3 separate regions of the Homo sapiens genome follow, and regions 1 and 2 are each linked to region 3. Evidence: fine-mapped expression QTL. A gene starts in region 3. Each other region holds a variant in brackets. All regions are shown on one strand. Distances are between the middles of the regions. Region 1 overlaps ZNF594 (zinc finger protein 594). Region 2 holds the start of RABEP1 (rabaptin, RAB GTPase binding effector protein 1). Region 3 holds the start of ZNF232 (zinc finger protein 232).

Region 1 (8,153 bases), 71 kb before region 3:
CCTCTCAAACCATGTGGAACTGTAAGTCCAATTAAACCTCTTTTTCTTCCCAGTCTCGGGTATGTCTTCATCAGCAGCATGAAAACATACTAATACAGTAAATTGGTGCCAGGGGTGCTGCTGAAAAGACATCCAAAATGTGGAAGCAATTCTGGAGCTGGAGAACAGGCAAAGGTCGGAACAGTCTGGGGGGCTCAGAAGAAGACAGGAAAATGTGGGAAAGTTTGGAACTTCTAGAGACTTGTTGAGTGGCTTTGACCAAAGGCCTGACAGCATTATGGACAATAAGGTCCAGGCTGAGGTGGTCTCAGATGGAGATGAGGAACTTGTCGGGAACTGGAGCAGAGGTGACTCTTGTTATGTTTTAGCAAAGACACTGGTGGCATTTTGCCACTGCCCTAGAGATTTGTGGAACTTTGAACTTGAGAGAGATGATTTAGGGTATCTGGTGGAAGAAATTTCTAAGCAGCAAAACATTCAAGGTGTGACTTGGGTCCTGTTAAATGGATTCAGTTTTATGAGGGAAGCAGAGCATAAAAGTTCAGAAAATTTGCAGCCTGAGAATGTGATAGAAAAGAAAAACCCATTTTCTGAGGAGAAATTCAATCAGGCTGCAGAAATTTGCATAAGTAACAAGAAGCTGAATGTTAATCCGCAAGACAATGGGGAAAATGTCTCCAGGGCATGTCAGAAGTCTTCACAGCAGCCCCTCCCATCACAGGCCTGGAGGCCTAGGAGAAAATGGTTTTGTGGGCCAGGCCCAGGGTCCCAATGCTGTGTCCAGCCTAGGGACTTGGTGCGCTGCATCCCAGCCGCTCTAGCCATGGCTGAAAGGGGCCAATGTAGATAGAGCTCAAGCTGTGGCTTCAGAGGGTGCCCTAAGCCTTGGCAGTTTCCACATGGTGTTGAGTCTTTAGGTACACAGAAGTCAAGAATTGAGGTTTGGGAACTTCCACCTGGATTTCAGAAGATGTATGGAAACGCTTGGATGCCCAGCCAGAAGTTTGCTGCAGGGGCAGGGATCTCATGGAGAACCTCTGCTAGGGCACTGCAGAAGGGAAATGTGGGGTCGAAGCCACCATATGGAGTCCCTACTCGGGCACCTTCTAGTGGAGCTGTGAGAAGAGGGCCAATGACCTCCAGACCCCAGAATGGTAGATCCACCTACAGCTTGCACCGTATGCCTGGAAAAGCTGCAGACACTCAACACCAGCCCGTGAAAGCAGCCAGGAGGGAGGCTGTGCCCTACAAAGCCACAGGGGTGGAGTTGCCCAAGACCATGGGAACCCACCTCTTGCATCAGCATGACCTGGATGTGAGACCTGGAGTCAAAGGAGATCATTTTGGAGGTTTAAAATTTGATTGCCTTGCTGGATTTCGGACTTGCATGGGCCCTGTAACCCCTTTGTTTTGGCCAATTTCTCCCATTTGGAACAGCTGTATTTACCCAGCAATACCTGTACCCCCATTATATCTAGGAAGTAACTAGCTTGCTTTTGATTTTACAGGCTCATAGGAGGAAGGGACTTGCCTTGTTTCTGTTGAGACTTTGAACTGTGGACTTTTGGGTTAATGCTGAAATGAGATGAGACTTAGGGGGACTGTTGGGAAGGCATGATTGGTTTTGAAATGTGAGGACATAAGATTTGGAGGGGCCAGGGGCAGAATGATATGGTTTGGCTCTGTGTCCCCACTCAAGTCTCATCTTGAATTGTACTCCCATAAATCCCATGTTTTGTGGGAGGGATATGGTGGGAGATAATTTGAATCATGGGGGCAGTTTCCCCCCTACTATTCTCATGGTAGTGAATAAGTCTCATGAGATCTGATGATTTTATCAGGGGTTTCTGCTTTTGCATCTTCCTCATTTTCTCTTGCCACCACCATGTAAGATGTGCCTTTCACCTCCCACCATGATTCTGAGGCCTTCCCAGCCATGTGGAACTGTAAGTCCAACTAAACCTCTTTTTCTCTCCAGTCTCAGGTATGTCTTTATCAGCAGCATGAAAACGGACTAATCCACTGGGGAAGGTCAGGGATTTGATAACGTGGACCCTCAAAAGCAATAAGCTCATCTATCTTGTAATTTCAGAAGAAATCAAATTGCCACACAAAAGGAGGCAATTCCATCAGAATATCAGAAAGAAAAATGTGAGGTCTGAGAAGAAGAGAATTGATTTCTATTGAAATGACAGCCAAACGTTTTTATTCTGAGGCATAGTACAGATTTGCTTAACTATCATGATATATAGGGAGGAAAGAGCAGTATGCTGGTTATTAATTTATTGCCTCTCAACTCCAGATCCACCCATCTTTGTTTGCTTTTGTTACAAAGCTGGATTCTGTAAACATTTCTCCTTTGCCAGTTCGTACAAGATTTGACTTTGTCAACAGAGGATGCTGGAGGGACAATGCGTGGCCATGGGAAGAGAAACTAACTTCCTGGTACCGGTGTGCTGTTCTATTTTTATTTATTTATTTTAATTATTTACTTATGTGGCTGCTAGCAGATCAACTTGTGGGAGGCCTGGTGGCATTTACCCTAGTGGGTTGCTTCCTGTGAACCAGTTCAGGCCCAGCCACACCATCCAGCAAGTTCCTCCCCCATCCAACAGGCCACTTCCTGTGGACCAACTCCAGATTGCCCTCCTCCCCCAGTGAATTAATTCACCACCCTTTAGGCCACTCCCACAGCCCAGCTCCAGCCTGCACCCTGGCGGGTTTTTTCACCAACAGGGTATGTGGTAGCACAGGTTCCTGTGTTAGCCACAGTGTCGCTAGTGAAAGCCACATCTCAGCTTTGGCAGGGAAAGGTCTTCTGAGTTCTTTGTTCCTCCCTCTTAGACTGCCCAGTATAATGAAGAGATGATATTTGTATTTTAGGAATTATAGAATGATCTACTTATCATTTCAGATTCTGAAGACAGGAATAAGATGAAGGAATGGAAATCAAAGATGGAAATTTCTGAAGAAAAGAAGTCAGCAAGGGCTGCATCCGAAAAACTCCAAAGACAAATCACCCAGGAATGTGAGTTAGTTGAAACCAGTAATTCTGAGGACAGATTATTGAAGCACTGGGTAAGCCCTTTAAAGGATGCAATGAGACATCTCCCTTCCCAAGAGAGCGGTATCAGGGAAATGCATATTATCCCCCAGAAAGCCATTGTGGGAGAGATTGGCCATGGATGTAATGAAGGAGAAAAAATACTTTCTGCAGGAGAAAGCTCCCATAGATATGAGGTTAGTGGCCAAAACTTCAAACAGAAGTCAGGATTAACTGAACATCAGAAAATTCATAATATAAATAAGACCTATGAATGTAAGGAATGTGAAAAAACCTTCAACAGGAGTTCAAACCTGATCATACATCAGAGAATTCATACAGGAAATAAGCCATATGTGTGTAATGAATGTGGGAAAGACTCTAATCAAAGTTCAAATCTTATTATACATCAGAGAATTCATACAGGAAAGAAACCTTATATATGTCATGAATGTGGAAAAGACTTCAATCAGAGCTCCAATCTGGTGAGACATAAGCAAATTCACAGTGGTGGGAATCCCTATGAGTGCAAAGAGTGTGGGAAGGCTTTTAAGGGAAGCTCAAACCTTGTCCTGCACCAGAGAATCCACAGTAGGGGGAAGCCATATTTATGCAATAAATGTGGGAAGGCTTTCAGTCAAAGCACAGATCTTATTATACATCACAGAATTCACACTGGAGAGAAACCCTATGAATGTTATGACTGTGGACAGATGTTCAGTCAAAGTTCACACCTTGTCCCACATCAGAGAATTCACACTGGAGAGAAACCCCTCAAATGTAATGAATGTGAAAAAGCCTTCAGGCAGCATTCTCACCTTACTGAACACCAGAGACTCCACAGTGGAGAGAAACCCTATGAATGTCACAGATGTGGGAAGACCTTCAGTGGGCGCACAGCTTTT[C/T]TTAAACATCAGAGATTGCATGCTGGAGAGAAAATTGAAGAATGTGAGAAAACCTTCAGCAAGGATGAGGAGCTTAGGGAAGAGCAGAGAATTCACCAGGAAGAGAAAGCTTATTGGTGTAATCAGTGTGGTAGGAATTTCCAGGGCACCTCAGACCTCATCAGACATCAGGTAACTCATACAGGAGAGAAACCATATGAATGTAAAGAATGTGGGAAAACTTTCAATCAGAGCTCAGACCTTCTGAGACATCATAGAATTCACAGTGGAGAAAAACCTTGTGTATGTAGCAAATGTGGGAAATCTTTTAGGGGCAGCTCAGATCTTATTAGACACCATCGTGTTCATACTGGAGAGAAACCCTATGAATGTAGTGAATGTGGGAAAGCCTTTAGCCAGAGGTCACACCTTGTTACACACCAGAAAATCCATACTGGAGAGAAGCCCTATCAGTGCACTGAATGTGGGAAAGCCTTCAGGCGGCGTTCACTCCTTATTCAACATCGGAGAATTCATAGTGGTGAGAAACCCTATGAATGTAAGGAATGTGGGAAGCTCTTCATTTGGCGCACAGCTTTCCTCAAACATCAGAGCCTGCATACTGGAGAGAAACTTGAATGTGAGAAAACCTTCAGCCAGGATGAGGAGCTTAGGGGAGAGCAGAAAATTCACCAGGAAGCGAAAGCTTATTGGTGTAATCAGTGTGGTAGGGCTTTCCAGGGCAGCTCAGACCTCATCAGACATCAGGTAACTCATACAAGAGAGAAACCATATGAATGCAAAGAATGTGGGAAAACTTTCAATCAGAGCTCAGACCTTCTGAGACATCATAGAATTCACAGTGGAGAAAAACCTTATGTATGCAACAAATGTGGGAAATCTTTTAGGGGTAGCTCAGATCTTATTAAACACCATCGTATTCATACTGGAGAGAAACCCTATGAATGTAGTGAATGTGGGAAAGCCTTCAGCCAGAGGTCACACCTTGCTACACACCAGAAAATCCATACTGGAGAGAAACCCTATCAGTGCAGTGAATGTGGGAATGCCTTCAGGCGGCGTTCCCTCCTTATTCAACATCGGAGACTTCATAGTGGTGAGAAACCCTATGAATGTAAGGAATGTGGGAAACTCTTCATGTGGCACACGGCTTTCCTCAAACATCAGAGACTGCATGCTGGAGAGAAACTTGAAGAATGTGAGAAAACCTTCAGCAAGGATGAGGAGCTTAGAAAAGAGCAGAGAACTCACCAGGAAAAGAAAGTTTATTGGTGTAATCAGTGTAGTAGGACCTTCCAGGGCAGCTCAGATCTCATCAGACATCAGGTAACTCATACAAGAGAGAAACCATATGAATGTAAAGAATGTGGGAAAACTCAATCAGAGCTCAGACCTTCTGAGACATCATAGAATTCACAGTGGAGAAAAACCTTACGTATGCAATAAATGTGGGGAATCTTTTAGGAGCAGCTCAGATCTTATTAAACACCATCGTGTTCATACTGGAGAGAAACCTCATGAATGTAGTGAATGTGGGAAAGTCTTTAGCCAGAGGTCCCACCTTGTCACACACCAGAAAATCCACACTGGAGAGAAGCCCTATCAGTGCACTGAATGTGAAAAAGCCTTCAGGCGGCGTTCACTCCTTATTCAACGTCGGAGAATTCATAGTGGTGAGAAACCCTATGAATGTAAGGAATGTGGGAAACTCTTCATGTGGCACACAGCTTTCCTCAAACATCAGAGACTGCATGCTGGAGAGAAACTTGAAGAACGTGAGAAAACCTTCAGCAAGGATGAGGAGCTTAGGGGAGAGCAGAAAATTCACCAAGAAGAGAAAGCTTATTGGTGTAATCAGTGTGGTAGGGCTTTCCAGGGCAGCTCAGACCTCATCGGACATCAGGTAACTCATACAGGAGAGAAACCATATGAATGTAAAGAATGTGGGAAAACTTTCAATCAGAGCTCAGACCTTCTGAGACATCATAGAATTCACAGTGGAGAAAAACCTTATGTATGCAACAAATGTGGGAAATCTTTTAGGGGCAGCTCAGATCTTATTAGACACCATCGTGTTCATACTGGAGAGAAACCCTATGAATGCCCTGAATGTTGGAAGGCCTTCAGTCAGAACTCACACCTTGTCAGTCATCAAAGAATTCATACCAGAGAGAAACCCTTTGAATGTAGCAACTGTGGTAAGGCCTTCAGTGGGTGGACAGCTTTTCTTAAGCACCAGAAACTTCACATTGGAAAGGAATTTGAAGACTGTAAGAGTCTACAAACAGGACCTATTCTAATAGGTAGCAGAAACCTAATGAATGCAGTAAAACTAGGAAAAGTCTGATGGAGACCACATCTTATTGCACTACAAATGAGTTTTATTAGAAAAAAACCATGGGAAGGTGGGAAAGCAGAGAAAATACCTACTGGATTTTTCAAACGTAAGTATAATCAAGTGGAAAAGCCAAAAGCTCTTGGACATAATCACCTTTTTTTTTTCTGTCTCAGAACTGACACTAGAATATGGTCCCAACGATACAATTTTTTAAATTATTTATTTTTTAACATACAAAGAGATGAGGTCTCACTATGTTGCCCAGGCTGGACTTGAACTCTTGGGCTCAAGCACTCCTCCCTCCTCAGCCTCCCAAAGGGTTGGGATTACCGGCATGAGCCACTGCACCAGCCCCAGGGGTCTAATTACTTGAGAATGTTTTAAGGGATGTCTATCATTATTAAAATCATTATAAATCACTTTGGCAACAACCCCAAAACTAAATTATTCATGGAAAGAGCCATTTCAATCTTGACTTCCTAGTCGAGTGACAAGTTTAAATGTGGGAAAAAACCCTGTGAAAGTAATGAGTGTAGGCCAGGTGCGGTGGCTCGTACCTGTAATCCAGCACTTTGGGAAGCCAAGGTGGGCAGATCACGAGGTCACGAGTTGATCATGAGGAGTTACTATGCCCAGCCAACATACTAAAACCCCGTCTCTACTAAAAATAACAAAAATTAGCCAGGCATGGTGGGGCACGCCTGTAGTCCCAGGTACTTGCGAGGCTAGGGCAGGAGAATCACTTGAACCTGGGAGGTGGAGGTTGCGGTGAGCCAAGATCATGCCACTGCACTCCAGCCTGGGCAACAAGTGCGAAACTCCATCTCAAAAAAAAAAAAAAGTCTAACTCTTCTGCTTGTCTTTACAATGCTGTACAGTGAGAGCTAATGTTTATAAGGATAAACAGGATACTTACAGGGATTTGAAGGTAATTTAATTCAGTGGTTTCCAACTTTTTAATCACCAAGGCCTTCTTTTTACTCCCCTATGTCCTGTGTCTTAAAAGATTATGTTTACCAAACTGCATTTATTAAAGAATTATATTTTGCTACATAAAGGCATGTACAACACAAATCATGCTTCTGACTGGCACCATGTAGGCAGACCTAGGTACTAAAATTCCAGCCCAAAGCAAATAATTTACCATTTTCATTAGTCTTTTTATTCCTTTTGTGGGCAAACATATCGTCTATGTTAGGCTTTTTGAAATATTAACTATGACTTGTAAACTCCAGATTAAAAACTAACCAATTCATCTTTGATGGAGCTTGAATCAAACTAAGGGTATTGGACTTTTGAAAGATTGAAATTTTTGTTACAGTATGGAATGTTTTTAACTGAATGTTGAAATAAAAGTTATTTAAGAATTACTTAGTGACTGTTTAGTATGTGCCAGGGGCCGTAATTAGATGGGGCTGAAGAAAGATAGTCATTGTTGAATCTTCTTCAGGTAGACCAGGTCCTCCTTGAGGTTCTCAGGCTGCATCTCCAGGTTGGCTCCGGCCAGGGTCAGCTTGTCCAGCCCCTGGTGCAGCTCCAGAGACCCAGCCTCGCTTGGTGCAGAAGTCATTGGCAGCCAGGTGGGCATCATCCACCTGTAGCCAGCACTTCTCCATTCTGCCAACGTCTCCGGCCTGGTGAGTCTGGATGTGAGCGCATCCCAGGGGGCCCAAGGCACAGAGAGAGAGAGGAACGGGGTGGAGGGAGGGAAGTGTGTGCAGGGGCCAGGAGCGCCAGGCTGCTCGGGCTTCCCGGCCCCTGCAGCCCGCCAGGAGCTGTGGCCAAGGCAGAGGCCTGCCCTGCTGCTGCTGGCGCTGTCACCTCCCTGTGGTCCTGCCTTCTGGGTCCTTGAGGGCCTCCTGTCATC
Region 2 (8,156 bases), 170 kb before region 3:
GGCATATGCAAAAACTGATCCCTGCCTAGAACACCCTTCCACCAGATATCCTCAAGGCTAACTCCTCTATCTACTTCAAGTCTTTGCACAAATGTCATCTTCTCAATAAAGCTGCCTGACCAGCCTATTTAAAACCAGCCCCACCCCCTTCCCTTTCTCCTGCTCTGTTTTCTTTTTTCCATTGCACTTATCATCTAACAACCCGTATCATTTGCTTACGTTTGTTGTTTAATATCCGTTTCTCCCACACTAGGGCAGGGTTATTTATTATCTATATTGCCTACTGATGTATTCCAAATGCCTAGAATTGTGCCTGACAAACAGTATGCATTCATATTAGATGAATAAATAGTTTTGTGTGTGTCTATAGGATTATCTAATTAATGGCTGAATGATTCACTACCTGGGAAAGGGACTGGGTCTGGTTTTGTTCATCACTGTATTTCCTAGATCCTAGCATAGGATTCGGCATAGAATAGGCACACAAATACTTGTTAATTGAACAATACAACTCTTTTTTTTTTGAGACAGAGTCTCACTCTGTCCCCCAGGCTGGAGTGCAGTGGCACGATCTCGGCTCACTGCTCACTCCACCTCCCGGGTTCAAGCGGTTCTTCTGCCTCAGCCTCCTGAGTAGCTGGGACTACAGGTGCGCACCACCACACCCGGCTAACTTTTGTATTTTTAGTAGAGATGGGGTTTCACCATATTGGCCAGGCTGGTCTTGAACGCCTGACCTTGTGATCCATCTGCCTTGGCCTCCCAAAGTGCTGGGATTACAGGCATGAGCCACCATGCCCGGCCAAACAATATCACTTTTTTTAATCAAAAGACACAAATTTAAAACAAATGACATCATCCAGAGCTTGTAGGATTACAGGGGAAATCCACCTGCCATATATCGTTGGCAAGTATGTAAATTGATGCCTTGGAGAGTAAGCTAGCAACAGGTATTAAAATTTAAACCACTCGGAACTCATGCCCTTTATTTAATTCACTAGTCTTACAGAAGTAAAAGAGTACCTTAAAAAATATGCACAAGGACATCCATTACAACACTGCTTATAAAATAATTAAAATTTGAAAACAATCTACTTGCCCCACAATAGGGAAATAGGCCATAAATCATGCCTGGTACATGCATATGATAAGATCGTCTTTAAGAAGAATGAAGAAGGCCTACAACACTGACCTGGAAGTAGTCCATGATCTAGTACATAAGCCAGATGGCATGGATTTGAATCCTGCTCCCCCACTTAATAGCTGTATAACACAGGCACGTTTCTTTAACTTCTGTGTGCTTCAGTTTCCTCATCAAGAAAATAGAAGCAGTAATATTCAATAGTACCATTGCTATGAAGATTTCCTAAGATAATGCCTATAGTGTTTGCAGAACATTACATGGCCATATAACCATGAGTATATAATATGATAGCTAACATTTATTAAGTGAGATAGGGAAGTTGCAGACTTATGTATGTAAAGCATGTCCTTCAGGGGTAAAAGGTAGCATGTCTGTGTAACTAACAGGAAACAATCAGGAATCCAGCCTGGCCAACATGGCAAGAATAAAAAATAATGAAGTAGGCTGGGTGCAGTTGCTCATGCCTGTAATCCCAACACTGAGAGGCCAAGATGGGAGAATCACTTGAGCCCAGGGGTTCAAGACCAGACTGGGCAACACAATGAGACCCTCTCTACAAAAGAAAAAAAAAAAAAAGAAAAAAAGTGAAGTAAAACCAGAGCAAATGCTTCAAAGATATAGTTGAACTTAGATTAAAAGAAATACTAAAATTAGAAAATTTTCATTTTTAAATTCTCAAGGGAAAACAGATCAACTGAAATTTCTTTAACTATTAAAATTACCTGTATTCCAAATAAGTAAACTAAGATGCAGTATCAAAAACCCAAAACTTTTTTTAACTTACAAAATAATTACAATGAATAAAATGATTACATTTCATCCCTTCGATTTACACACAAATCGATTTTCCTAATCTACCATATGGCCATGAAAAACAGACAATATTTTTTTTTTTTTAAAAAGTCATCAAAGACAATCGCTTCTGAAACAGGATAAAACAAGATAAAGTCAAAGACTAAGCAGTTAGTTATCTTTCACCACCAGTTTGACACAAAAGAATTCTGGCGATTTTTTTTTTTTTTAATCAGCAGGACTAGGAAATTCAAACGTGCCTAAAGCTAAAATGGTCTACATGAGTTCAGCTAAAGACACAAATTAAATCCCCAAAAGCCGGACTCACGGGCTCACACCTACAATCCTAGCACTTTGGGAAGTGTAGGCAGGTGGATCCCTTGAGTTCAGGAGTTTGGGACCAGCCTAGGCAACATGGCAAAACGCCGTATCTACAAAAATACAAAAATTAGCTGGGAATAGTGGCATGCACCTGTAGTCACAGCTACTTGGGAGGCTGAGGTAGCAGGATTGCTTTGACCCCAGGAGGTCGAGGCTGCAGTGAGCCAAGATCGCGCCACTGCTCTCCAGCCTGGGCAACAGAGTGAGATACTGTCTCAAAGAAAAAAAAAAAAATTAAAATCCCCAAGATGAACTTCTAAGGCACTGACACAAGGCACTCAAACGTACCAAATTATCTCTCTCCTACTGTAAAAAGTAGCCATGGCTACCTACATTAATTTAAAATAAAAATTGCAATCTATGCAAACTAAATCTCATCCTAGAGTCACAAGATTTGAGAAATAGGAAAGAAACCTGAACTAAAATACCAAGAATACAAGATTTCCTAAAGCTAGTTTTCCCTAGCCTCGTTCAAGTGCTTAGTCACTTCTGCCTATTTACAAGGAAGACCATTTCATATCTTCAAAGAGGCAGGGAATTTTGATTCCAGACGGTCATGTCACCTGAGCTGCCCTAGACGTTTCTTTCCATGCAACTCAAGAGAAGGCAGCAGCCAGCTATGCATACCTACCACTCCTGTTCAGAACCACAAGCTCTCTGTATCTTGCCTCTGTGTGCAGTAACAAAGTGGGATTGTGGAAGAACAAAGTTTTCTTGCCTGACACCAAATGCAAAAGGTGATCATTAAAATGCAGCCTGAAGACATCCCAGTTTCCTCTCTCTGACAGCCCACCAAAAATGCTTCCCTTCCCTTCTCCTGGAACAGAAACAGCAAAGCAGGTTCTTATAAAAGTCTAAATGCTTACTGGACATCTCCCCTTAGGCAAGCAACAACACCCAAAACTACAGGCTAACAGGCTCTGAAGCACATTTCCCAGAGAGCAGCCAGAACCTTAAAATCTGATAACATGGTTTCAAGTTCCCCAAAGGCAAAAATAAAAAGTAAGGGTTTCACGAAAGGTTATTTTGAGACAACCCCAAGGAAAGCCAAGTTTTAAAGTACCTACTCCGTACCAAGCCCCTTTTCCCAACATTCTACTCTACTCACACTTAAAGATGCTAAGCACACACGCTGATTATAGAAATACACCAGAAAGTACTTTCACAACTAGATACAGTGGGACCTTGGAAAAGCCCAAGCACACTATTTCCAAACATCTATTCTAGGTGGTAAAACCTGGAACCATGTAGTCAATCTGTGAAGCACAGCTTAGTCCAATTTCCCAGAAGGTCACGAAGGGCTCTGACAACCAACTTTGATTATTTAGGATGGGGCCCTTTTTTCCTTCCAAGAATATAAATGACACATTTCTTCGACTTCACTTTTTTTTTTTTAGTTCCACAAGCAAATATCTTCAAGTAGTGCAAGTAGGCCTCAGCATTCTCAAACACTATTCTCATTATTCCTAATACCTCCATAATACTATTATTGTATATACACATTCGTGTTGCTATTTTTATAGATAAAATATAAAGGCATGAATTAACCTCTTGGTTAATTCGTGGGTGAGAATACTGAGGCTCAACGAGGCTAAGAAATGAGCCCAGAGCTTGCTGGTTAAGAATACAGGTCCTCTAGACTCCCAGGCCCCAACACTTAACCATTAAGCCACACTGCCATTCAGGGAATGCTACTAAATCCAGTTACTGTACACAACTACTTTCAGGTCACATAACTGGGTGCAAAGAGTTCTATAGCAAGGATTGGGGCGGCAGGGAGGGTACACTACCTAAGCTAAGATTTTTTTTCTTTAACGAATATAGCACATGTTCCCGATTTCCATCCTCCCCCACGGGCAGAACCCACGTGCCGGTCCCCCGCTACCCAGAACCGCTCCCTCCCCACACTACCCCACGCTACCCAGCAGCCTCCCCACGCCCTTCCCTCTGCCCTCCCGCAAGCGCTGCACCCGCGCCTCCCGCCCCCTCCCCAGCGACGGCAGCCGGGGCGCCCGCGCCGCCCTCGCGCGCC[GCAGCCCGCGCGCCC/C]CCGCCTCCGCCCGGCGGGGTCACCCCCGGGGCCTGCGCGCGCCCTTGCCGCCGCCTGCCCGCCCCGAAATCCTCCCGCGACGCCGACGCCGGGCAGGCCGCGCCCGCCGCGCCTGCCATGGTGGGCGCCTCACCGTCAGGCTGGGAAGCCGGGCCCGGCTGCGCCATGACCAGGCGGCCGGCCTCGGGGAGCGGGGATGGGCGGGGAAGCGGCGTCCTGGGCTCCCGCGGGCTCAGCTGGCGGAGGAGGCGTCAACCGAGCCGCCGCCGCCGCCGCCCAGAGAGAAACCGCTAAGGCTGGATCCGCCGGCGCCGCCACAGCCGCGGGCAGAGACGGACCCGACCGCCGACCTCCGCCTCCTCATCCTGACAGCGGGAAATAAGCAGTGCGCAGGCGCAGGGGGATGGGGCGGCACGTGACGTTGGCCCGAGGGGAGGGGCGGGGCCTCGGGAGCGCGGAGGGAGCGCGGAGGGAGCGCGGAGGGAGCGCGGAGGGAGCGCGGAGGGAGCGCGGAGGGAGCGCGGAGGGAGCGCGGAGGGAGCGCGGAGGGAGCGCGGCGGGAGGGGAGGGTTTCGGCGGAGCTGGGCGCCTGACCCAGCGGCGCGGGGAGGCTGAGTGCCGAGCGGAGCTGGAGAAGAGGGGCTGCAGCAGAGGCCTGGCCTCTCGAAGGTGCCGGTCCCGGTTCTCCACCCCAGCACAGTGAGGGGAAAAAAAAAAATGAGTAAGAGAGGAGGACCGATGGCGGGGTGCAGTTCCAGCCTCTACCTCTTCTAGCTTTGCGACCTTGGGAGAGTCACTTCACCTCTTGGAATTTTTATCAATATAATGGCTAAGAAAAGTTTAAACGAGGTAATAAAGTATGAAGAACTGTTTCCGACAGTACTGGGCCTGGACCCCAGGTCTTCTGGTGCAGAGGCCAGTATACTATCCATTCAGCAAATACGTTTGGGTTTTCAGTCGTGATAGATGCTGGAGATACAGCCAGGTACAGACCCTGCACTCATGGCAGGAAAGGAGAAATCATATACACAAAGTGTGGCCCTTATACTTGGGCCCCTGGGCCCTATACTTTAGGAACTCCCCTCTAATCACCACTCCCCGTCTGATTTCGACACCTGGAGTGCCCCATGCCAAGGAGGTAGTTTAAAAAGCTTTTTTTTTTTTTTTGGAGATAGAGTCTCACTCTGACACCCAGGCTGGAGTGCCATGGTGCGATCTCGGCTCACTGCAACCTCTGCCTCCCGGGTTCAAGCAATTCTCCTGCCTCAGCCTCCCGACTAGCTGGGACAACAGGCGCACGCCACCACACCCGGCTAATTTTTGTATTTTTAGTAGAGACGGGGTTTCACTATGTTGGTCAGGCTGGTCTCAAACCCTTGACCTCGTGATCCGCCTGCCTCAGCCTCCCAAAGTGCTGGGATTACAGGCGTGAGCCACCGCGCCCGGCCTAAAAAGCTATTTTGAAATCAGAGAGGAGCATCAGGAATTATGTACATTTTAAGACCCAGCAATCCCACCCCAGGATGAGGGAGTCCACAGGGTTTGGCACTTCAGGACCAAGTTCTGAATACTTGTGGCCCCAGAATTCCCTTTCCAGATGGCTGAAGCTGTGGTCTCTTTCCCAGATCCATTCTCTCTATGGCAGAGTCTAGACATCCCTAAAAGAAGCTAAAGTGAAAGCATAAAGAATGAGTTCATGTCCTTTGCAGGGACATGCATGAAGCTGGAAACCATCATTCTCAGCAAACTAACACAGGAAAAGAAAACCAAACACCTCATGTTCTCACTCATAAGTGGGAATTGAATAATGAGAACACATGGACACAGGGAGGGGAACATCACACACCGGGGCCTGTGGGGGGTGGGGGGAAGGGGAGGGAGAGCATTAGGACAAATACCTAATGCATGCGGGGCTTAAAACCTAGATGACGGGTTGATAGATGCAGCAAACCACCATGGCACATGTATACCTATGTAACAAACCTGCACGTTTAGCACATGTATCCAAGAATTTAAAGTATAATAAAAAAATAATAATAGGCCGGGCACAGTGGCTCACGCCTGTAATCCCAGCACTTTGGGAGACTGAGGCAGGTGGATCACGAGGTCAGGAGTTCAAGATCAGCCTCTCCAAGATGGTGAAACCCCATCTCTACTAAAAATACAAAAAATTAGTCGGGTGTGGTGGCAGGCGCCTGTACTCCCAGCTACTCGGGAGGCTGAGGCAGAGAATTGCTTGAACCCAGAAGGCGGAGGTTGCAGTGAGCCAAGATCGCACCACTGCCAGCCTGGGCGACAGATCGAGACTCCATCTCAAATAATAATAATAATAATCAGAAAATCCACTAATTAGAATCAGTTTCTACTTTCTTTAAATCATTTGTTTTAAATAAGGTATACTTTTATTAAAATGATTATTTCTCACTGAAAAAAAGGGAGGCTAAAGGGCAGCTTTGTTTTATTTTAAGGGGGTGACACGACACTTGGGTGTTTGAGCTCCTATGTCCACAGATCCCTCATGGTGCAGGACAGAGGTGAGAAAAGAAGGCAAGTGAGCCAAGAGACAATAGTTGGGCCAGGGCCTGTGCTGCTTTCGCCACCTCATTCATGGGCATAACTCCCAGGAGCCCAGGAATTCTAAATTTAAACCTGGTCTTCCAGGTCTTAAACAGGTAGATTTGTCCAAGTAGAAGGATAGACTGTATTAAGGTTAGCGGTTAATTGGAGTAGTTTGTAATTTTATTTTATTTTATTATTTATTTAATTTTTGGAGACGGAGTCTCTCACTCTATTGCCCAGGCTGGAGGGCAGTGGCACCATCTCAGCTCACTGCAACCTCCACCTCCCGGATTCCAGTGATTCTCCTGCCTCAGCCTCCTGAGTAGCTAGGATTATAGGCGTGTGTCACCACGCCCAGTTAACTCTTGTAATTTTAGTAGAGACAGGGTTTCACCATGTTAGCCCGGCTGGTCTTGAACTCCTGACCTCAAGTGATCTACCCACCTCGGCCTCCCAAAGTGCTGGGATTACAGGTGTGAGCCACCACGTCCAAACTGGTTTGTAATTTTAAATAATTTAGGTATCTATTTGTACTTTTGCCCCAGGTCCTGCCATCGTTAGAGGAGAGCCAAAATACAGACTCGAGTTTTTTGAGCAGTTAATGTCTCCCAAATGGCTGGTGTGCATTTGAGAGAGCAAGCAGGGTCTCCCCAACACCCTGCCCAACCCCCCATAAATGATTTTCCTGGATGAGCAAATCCATGCTTACCAGGAAGACCTTTGGCCAGGATAGGGCAGCCCAGTGCATCCTCTGTATTGTTGTGATGACTAACACGAGGCATAAGCCATAAAGATAGCAGATGCGGCCAGGTGTGGTGGCTCACGCCTGTAATCCCAGCACTTTGGGAGGCCGAGGCGGGCAGATCATTTGAGGTCAGAAGTTCAAGACCAGCCTGACCAACATGGTGAAACCCTGTCTCTACTAAAATACAAAAATTAGCCAGGCGTGGTGTTGGGCACTTACAATCGGGAGGCTGAGGCAGAATTGCTTGAACCCAGGAGGTCCAGAGGTTGCAGTGAGCCAAAATTGCACCACTGCACTCCAGCCTGGGCGACAGAGCAAGACTCCCTCTCAAAAAAAAGAAATAAATAAAAATAAAATAGAAGGGGCTCCTTCCAGTGAGAGAGTGGCAAATTTGTTGCCATTGATAATGAGGCTTGAAGCCAGGCCCTCAAGTCAAGGTCCCTCAGAAATGGTCAGGCATATGATTTGGACACCTAGGGCTCTCCATG
Region 3 (8,178 bases):
AAACATGAGGACTCGGTTCGACTCGATGGTGCGGGCCTAAGCCCCGGGAAGCCGGGAGTGGTGAGGCGGGCCGCCGGGAGCGGGGCCGGGAGTGGTGAGGGGGGCCGCCCGGAGCGGGGCCGGGAGTGGCGTCGAGCAGAGAGCCCGCAGGCGGGAAGTCCTCTCAATGAGCGTCTCGAGCGCTGCCCGCGGCCCCTCCTGACTGCTAGTTGGAGCGGGGACAGCATGGGCGCGGCCGCCAAGGTAGCGTCGAGTGAGGGGAAGACTGATGGGCGCCTGGAGACGAGCTCCCACAGCGGCCACGCATTTGGAGCTGGGCGTCGGGGCCCGCCCGTCCCGCCGCGCCGCTAGCTGTCCCCTCTGCCTGGCCTCCGTGCCTTGCGCCCCTTTGTGCCGTCCAGCCCTACAGCTTTGAGGCCCTTTCGGCGCACGCACCCCGCCCCGATCCCCCGGCGCTATCCCAGCCTTGACGGCCGGGGAGGCTTTCCCTAGCCCGGCGCCTCGAGGACCGCCTCAGTGGCCAAAGGCGGCGCGGGGTGCGCCCGGGCTGTGTCCCCGGGAGGCTGGACCGCCAGTCCGCGCATGAGGCCATCTGTGAGGCACGAGTGCAGGAGAGTGAAGGAGACCGGGGCGTGCTGAGTAGGGACCTCCCTCAGTGACTGGAAGGTTATTCATGGGGCCTTCTGACACTCTAAAAACGAAATTTCTCCGGGGTTTGATGAGTATCAGGGTGGTGGCTTCTTGAGTTTTGAGCAGGCATCACAAATCAATCCCTCTGGAATACAGAACTGCCTCTGTTCCGTTTTGGGTTTTGTGTGTGTGTGTGTGTGTGTTTTTGGAGACGGAGTCTTGCTCTGTTGCCCAAGCCGGAGTGCAGTGGCGCCATCTCGGCTCACTGTAACCTCCGCCTCCCGGGTTAAAGCTGTTGTCCCGCCTCAGCCTCCCGAGTAGCTGGGATTACAGGCGCCCCCCACCACGCCAGGCTAATTTTGTATTTTTAGTAGAGAGAGGGTTTCACCATGTTGGCCAGGCTGGTCTTGAACTCCTGACCTCAGGTGATCCACTGGCCTCGGCCTCGCAAAGTGCTGGAATTACAGGCACGACCCACCACATCCGGCCCTCTGTTCCTTGTTTCGAAATAACTCAATTAAAAGTCAGAGGCTCACTGGCCACATCTCCTTCCACCCACCCACCGCCCCACCCCCCAAAAGATGCCTCTAGCAAATAAAATGAGACGTCCTGATGCCTTCCTGGCTCGTTCCAGAATTTTTAGCTTTGACTTTTGACGTGGGGTCCTTCTACCTAAAGTCCCCGCCGTCACATCAGCCCCCAGTTTTCCTCTGTCTTAGCTCGGGCTGCCGTAACAAAATACCATAGACTGGATGCCAGACAACAGAAATTTATTTTCTCAGTTTTGGAGGCTGCAAGGCTGTGACCAGGGCCCAACATGGTCAGGTTCTGGTGAGAGCTCCCTGGCTGCCTTCTCACAGGGTCCTCACATGGCAGAGAGAGAGGGACCCAAAGCCCTCTGGTGTCTTTTTTGTTTGTTTGTTATTTTTTGGGACGGAGTCTCACACTGCTGCCAGGCTGGAGTGCAGTGGCCCGATCTCGGCTCACTGCAACCTCCACCTCCCAGGTTCAAGTAATTCTCCAGCCCCAGCCTCCCAATTAGCTGGGATTACAGGCACCCACCACCACACCCGGCTAATTTTTGTATTTTTAGTAGAGAGGGGCTTTCACCATGCTGGCCAGGCTGGTCTCGAACTCCTGAGCCCAGCTGATCCACCCGCCTCGGTTTCCCAAAGTGCTGGGATTACAGGCGTGAGCCACTGCGCCTGGCCAGAACTCAGTCCTTACAGAACATCAGAGAATCCATACAAGGTGAGAGAGAGGCCTTATAAATGCATTGGGTGTGGGAAAGATTTGAAGGGGAGCTCACAACTTATTCAGCATCAAAGAATTCACAGTGGAAAGAAACTTTGTGAATGCAATGAATGTTCAAAGACTTGTAATCAGAGCTCACACTTTATTCGACATCATAGAATTCATAGTGGAGAAAAGCCCTATGAATGTGACAAGCATGGGAAAGCCTTCAGATGGAGCTCAGACCTTGTGAGGCATCTGGAAATTCATATTGGAGATAAAGTTTTGGAATGTAGCGAGCGTGGAAGAATTTTCAATCAGAGCTCAGGTCTAATGCAGCACCAAAGAAACCATACAGAATCATAACCCTAGGAAGACAGTAATGATAAAGATGTCAGTATGTACATATAGGAAGAGAGAAGGAGAGTTTGTTTTTGTCCTAACTATTTGGAAAATTGTAAGCTTCCTAAGAGCAATTTTCATCTGATTCAGTGTATAGTACTTAGTCTCAGGTCATGTGCAGATATGTCCTTCCCAAATGCTTACCACAAGATAAATCAGAAATCTTGACTGGAATAAGCTTCTAGTTCCTTTGCTTTATCATGAGAGGTTCCACACCACAGGAAAATCTTGTAAATGGTGGAAGCTGCATAAAGCACCATCATCATCACAAAATGGTGTCCTTGTGTGTCCTGTTTAGCAGCACCGAGAATCTAATAGCTTTCCCCTTGTCTGTTTTTCCTTACTATGAATTGTGCCAGGGGAACAGTAAAATGGGTATGATATCCTGAACTCTAGGGTGGATGTCTTTCTGGGACAGAATCTAATCCAAAAGTCTGCAAATGGACTTGAGGTTTTCACATTAGTATAAATGTCAATATGTAGTTTAGGGAATTTGCCTTATTCCTCCATTCCTAGCAAAATTAGATACAGAAGCAGCTAATTAAATCAGGAAAAGGAAACTGACAGTAAGTCATAGGACCCATTGTCTTCTCTCATGTAAAAGTAGAAGTTGTGATTCAATCTGTTCTGTAGGATTTAAAAGTATAATGGCACATTGAAGTTTGACATACTGAAATTCAGGCTCTGTCAATTTCATCTCTGTAACCTTTATTGTTTCTGAGTCTTGAGTTTTCTCATCTGTAAAATCAAGATAATGACATTAATACAATCCCTTGTGGAGCAACTGTGAAGACTAAATAAGACAATTTCATTAAGTTCCTGGCATAGTTCTAGACACGTAGTAGACATTCAACAAATGATAACTATTTTTATCCATAGCTCCTACGTGCAGTAATTATCAATGGCACTTTGAAGGAAAAAAGATAATATATCCCCCAGCCATGGGGGTGTCAATGCGCATTTTCAAGGATACTATATCTTGGAGAAACAAATTTAATAATCTGAGAATCTGAGAACTGTTACTATGGTACTACACAGTTGAACAACAATTTTTCTTGGAGAGACTAGGATTAAGCTATTTTATAAAAGTATTGAGAGACTGGATCAATCAATATCCTGCAAAATTGATAGTGAGATAAATTTATTTTTAATTAATTTTTTTTTTGAGACGGAGTCTCACTCTGTCGCCCAGGCTAGAGTGCAGTGGCACAATCTCAGCTTATTGCAACCTCTGCCTCCCGGGTTCAAACGATTCTCCTGCCTCCTGAGTAGTGGGGACTACAGGCGCCCGCCACCACGCCCAGCTAACCTTTTTGTATTTTTAATAGAGACAGGGTTTCACCATGTTGGCCACCATGTCTCAAAAAAAAAATAAAAAATAATCGGCCGGGCGCCTGTAAACCCAGCACTTTGGGAGGCCGAGACGGGCGGATCACGAGGTCAGGAGATCGAGACCATCCTGGCTAATATGGTGAAACGCCGTGTCTCCTACCAAAAAAAAAAAATTAGCCGGGCGTGGTGGCGGGCGCCTCTAGTCCCAGCTACTCAGGAGGCTGAGGCAGGAGAATGGCGTGAACCCGGGAGGCGGAGCTTGCAGTGAGCCAAGATCGCGCCACTGCACTCCAGCCTGGGCGACAGAGCAAGACTCCGTCTCAAATAAATAAATAAAATAAAAAATAACAACAACAAAAAAACACCAACCCCTATTTCCCCCATCGCAATAAAATTAACCTTAGAATTCTTTTTTCTCCTCCCCTCCCCCTACGCCCCAGGAATTGTACAGGCTAGTGGTTGGGGAATATTTTTTCGTGGAAGGGACCGTCTTCCTTAGCTGTGGCCCTCTCATCAGGTCTGGGAAGAGGTAATTGGAAAATAGAACTCATGGAGAAGTGTTACCACAGGCCATGGACAAGGCCAGAATTTCCCTGACATCTGTCCGCCAGCACCGCCCTTCAGGTACAATTCCACAAGAGACCCCCCAAACTTGATGAAGTCACCCGCTTACAAGGGCTCACTCTCCACCTGCGCAAGGACTGCAATTCCCAGGGGCCTCCAGGGCACCCGGCCGCTCCAGTCCAGTCGTGCAGGCGGCGCGCTCTTTCTCGCTCCGCTCAAGTCCAGGAACCGGTTCCCGGGCTCCCAGCCTCTCGGCAGCGCCCACGCGCCTGGGCCAAAGTCCGCGAACGGAAGCCGGCGGCGAGGAGGATTCTGGGAGTTGGAGGCCGAGGCTGCGACCTGCGCAGGCGCAAACCTGCCCCTGGGGTGAGGGCTGTAAGTGGCGCGATTCGCGGCAGCGCCCCGATGGAACCTCCTGGTCCTGTGAGGTGAGTGTTGGCGGCGGCTTCCCCGAGGTCCACCTGGCGGCTTGGCTTTTGCCCGTCCCGCAGGCAGCGGCGGCTCTGCAGTGAGCAGGCCTGGCAGGCAGCTCCGCGGTTGTGTGTGGAGAGGGGTTTGGGTTGCCCGTGGTGCCCGCGCTGCGCTACCTGCGTTGCGTCGCGTCACGTGCCGTGGAGGGGGGTCTTGATGTTCCTCTTCTCTTTTCTCGAGACCCTTGGGTAGGGAGTGAAGGGTGGGAAGGGGAGTTGTACCTGGCCTGGACGACAGCCCCCTCCCCGGGCGGGCACCTGCCCGAGGCCGGGGTAGAGAAGTTTTGCTGGGGCCAGCGGCGCCGGGCATCACCCTGGGAGACGCGAGCTCCGCGTTTTTCCTCGCGCCTCCTTTGTCTTAGGCCAGCGGTCCCCCTTTGTGCTCCTTTCGTGGCCTCTGATGCGTTCCACCTCCTTCCCTGTGTGAAAGGAAAATAAAATCTCAGGACCCCAAACTTACTATGACAAAGGGAAAAGTTAAGCTTGGAAACTGAGTCACGGAAAAAAACTGCTTTTCCTTTTGTTCCTAAACCGATAGCTGCAAGATAGAAAGCAACATATGCCCCCAGGTGGCCTCCCTCACCCTGGCAATGGAAACGAACAGCCGAGCTTCACCGGACAAGACTAGAAATCGTTCCTCCACCCACCCAGAGACAAAGCATATTTGACTTCTTCCTCTACTGTATGTCTACCTTATCTTGTGTAAAATGCAGATTTACTGAGCACGAGACAAATTCATAATTGACTTCCTCTTTTCACGTGCAACATGTGGATTCAGTGAGCTCTAATCAAATCCTCACAAGAATGTGGCCACTTACCTCACCACATACCCTCCCTCTTCTCTCCTCCTTCCCCTCCTGCCAGCTTTCTCCCCATTAAATTGAAGCCCTCAAAACCCTCTTTGGTAAAAGTGCGAGCCACGGATCCTACTGTGGCTTGTGTGTCTTTTTCCTGGGTGCATCCTCAACCTTAGCAAAATAACCCCTAAATTGGTTGAGACCTATCTCAGATGCTTTTTTGGTTTACACCTGTTAGATTTCCTTGACGCAGGCCACTGTACCCGAGACTTGTTCATAGCTGCCCCTTAATAGGGCTTTGGCATTTGAATGAGATCCAGCTCCTTAAAGGGGACTTATATTTTTCTTTTGCTGTAGCTACTACTTCAGAAATTTTTGAAAGCAGGGAGGAGCCATCTCAGAGGAGGCTGCCTCCCCAACACATTCCACCTTGCACTGAAAGCTGCTCGGCTCTGGGCTCTGCATCTGGAAACTTGGGTTTTGCTTCAAACTTATTTCTTCCAATAGTCATTTCTTCCCATAGGCCCCCAGAACTTTTTTTTTCTTGATACATTTTTCCTGTCAATGGCATTTAATTAGTTGTATTATAGAAAACCACTTTACATCCCCGTTTCTACCACGGTGCAAGTTTCTCAAAAACATTGACTTAGTGCAGCAGAATTCTGGGGAGGGGTGGAAGAAAAAGCGGGACTACAGGGCATAGGACAGGGTTTGGCTCTTTGGAGTGTTGAGTATATGTATATGTTTAATGAATGAAAAAAGAAGAGGAGGACGGGCGCGGTGGCTCATGCCTGTAATCCTACCACTTTGGGAGGCCGAGGTGGGTGGGTCACCTGAGGTCAGGAGTTCAAGACCAGCCTGGCCAATATGGCAAAACCCCGTCCCTACTAAAAATACAAAAAAATTAGCTGGATGTGGTGGCAGGCGCCTGTAATCCCAGCTACTTGGGAGGCTGAGGTAGGAGAATCGCTAGAACCCCGGGGGTGGAGGTTGCAGTGAGCTGAGATCATGTCACTGCACTCCAGCCTGGGTAACAGAGAAAGACTCTGTCTTAAAAAAAAAAAAGAGGAATGATTTCTTCTTATGTTACAGGGGGCCCTTGCAAGATTCCAGCTGGTATGAGCCTTCTGCAGAGCTAGTGCAGACTAGGATGGCTGTATCACTAACAGCAGCTGAAACTCTGGCCCTTCAGGGTACACAGGGACAAGAGAAGATGATGATGATGGGACCAAAGGAAGAGGAACAGTCTTGTGAGTATGAGACCAGGCTACCTGGGAACCACTCTACCAGTCAAGAGATCTTCCGCCAACGCTTCAGGCATCTCCGCTACCAGGAGACTCCTGGTCCCCGGGAGGCCTTGAGCCAACTACGAGTACTCTGCTGTGAGTGGCTGAGGCCAGAGAAACACACGAAGGAGCAGATCCTGGAGTTCCTGGTGCTGGAACAATTCTTGACCATCCTGCCTGAGGAGCTCCAATCCTGGGTGCGGGGACATCACCCTAAGAGTGGAGAGGAGGCTGTGACTGTGCTGGAGGATTTAGAGAAAGGACTTGAACCAGAGCCGCAGGTGGGAAGGGGGATTTGGTCTGTTATGGGAGCCAGATTGATGACCTTCAGGCTGGACCGAGGGGCAGCTGTAGGGGGAGGTGCCAAGTTCAAACCTCTCTTGGGCCAGGTAGAGCAGTTAGTATGTGTTTCTGTGTCTGTCTTTTCTGCCCTCGAGCCCTGAATGAGAAAGAGACTCTAGCTCCTCTTCTTCCCTTGTGCTGACTCTGAGGAGGCTCTCTAAAGTCTCCTTGGAAGCTTTGGTCCAAGGAGGGTCACATCTGCAAGTGTCCAGGCAGGGGACAGAAACCACACTAGTAATTTGAAGAAAATTTAAACTGAGTGGTGCCTGATCACCTCCAGGTCCCAGGCCCTGCACATGGACCTGCACAGGAAGAGCCATGGGAGAAGAAGGAATCTCTGGGAGCAGCCCAGGAAGCACTGAGCATCCAGCTCCAGCCTAAGGAGACCCAGCCTTTCCCAAAGAGTGGTGAGGAGCAGGATTCTGTGGGGAGGGAGAGGAGAAAGAGGGACTATAAAGGGCACAGTACCTAGTACCTGTAAAGGGTAAATAGTAGTAGGTGCTTAAATGTTTGGTATCATCACAGCCTTACTATTCTTATCTCTTAGGTGAGAGACTTTGCCTGTTTCATCACTCATAAAATTAGGAGTAAGAATAAACTACCTCATAAGATAGCTCTGAGGATTAAGCTCAACTTGGGTCTTATCTGGATATAAAGCCTGGCCAGCATCTCTTAACTTTAGAGAGCCCTAAATCAGGACCAGGAAATAGCTCATTCATTTATGCCTTATCATCTCCACTGCACTTAACTCCTAGTCTATAATAACTCTGCCCTGAGCTAGAGGCCAGCCTTGAGATCCTTTTTTTTTTTTTAAACTCGCTGAGGCCTCGCAAAACACTTTTTAAGCCATAAAGCACTCCTATGTGAGATACAGCCTGTCATCACCTTTACCACCTCTTCCTCATGTAAACAGCCCTATCTGAAACTCTCTTATGTGTGCCCTCACCTTCTACCCTTCAGATTCACTACAGAAACTTCCTTCTTGGCCTGCATACATACCTGCAAACAACCTCTCCTCTCTCCCAGCGGCGAACACTAGACTTAGAGCCTCAGGGGCGTGAACTCTCCTTGTTGACCTCTGTAGCCTTGTGACCGTATTGTGAATATGCGGCTAACCAAGAA

The links. PIP is the estimated chance that this variant, and not a neighbour inherited with it, causes the effect.
Region 1: its variant is fine-mapped to the expression of ZNF232 in lung (TOPMed, PIP above 0.99). The same link has a PIP of 0.9 or more in esophagus muscle.
Region 2: its variant is fine-mapped to the expression of ZNF232 in lymphoblastoid cells (GEUVADIS, PIP 0.95).

Annotation. Positions count from the first base shown.
Region 1 is chr17:5,179,038-5,187,190 of GRCh38, reverse strand. It overlaps ZNF594 (zinc finger protein 594), which reads left to right. Exons shown (of 2, transcript NM_032530.2): 2 at 2,915-7,656. The coding sequence starts at 2,935. The coding sequence ends at 5,358. Among named protein-coding and RNA genes, the nearest start is that of ZNF594, 8.8 kb to the left of the region's middle. The variant C/T (reference allele first, on the strand shown) is at 3,949.
Region 2 is chr17:5,278,862-5,287,017 of GRCh38, reverse strand. It overlaps RABEP1 (rabaptin, RAB GTPase binding effector protein 1), which reads right to left and starts at 4,734. Exons shown (of 18, transcript NM_004703.6): 1 at 4,498-4,734. The coding sequence starts at 4,531. RefSeq lists an enhancer at 1,929-2,447 and a silencer at 4,295-5,014. The variant GCAGCCCGCGCGCCC/C (reference allele first, on the strand shown) is at 4,350.
Region 3 is chr17:5,108,211-5,116,388 of GRCh38, reverse strand. It overlaps ZNF232 (zinc finger protein 232), which reads left to right and starts at 4,511. Exons shown (of 4, transcript NM_014519.6): 1 at 4,511-4,589; 2 at 6,521-6,995; 3 at 7,337-7,463. The coding sequence starts at 4,567. It overlaps USP6 (ubiquitin specific peptidase 6), which reads right to left and starts at 357. Exons shown (of 38, transcript NM_001304284.2): 1 at 1-357. It overlaps ZNF232-AS1 (ZNF232 antisense RNA 1), which reads right to left and starts at 4,454. Exons shown (of 3, transcript NR_135658.1): 1 at 4,288-4,454; 2 at 2,937-3,003; 3 at 2,007-2,231. RefSeq lists an enhancer at 4,151-4,200.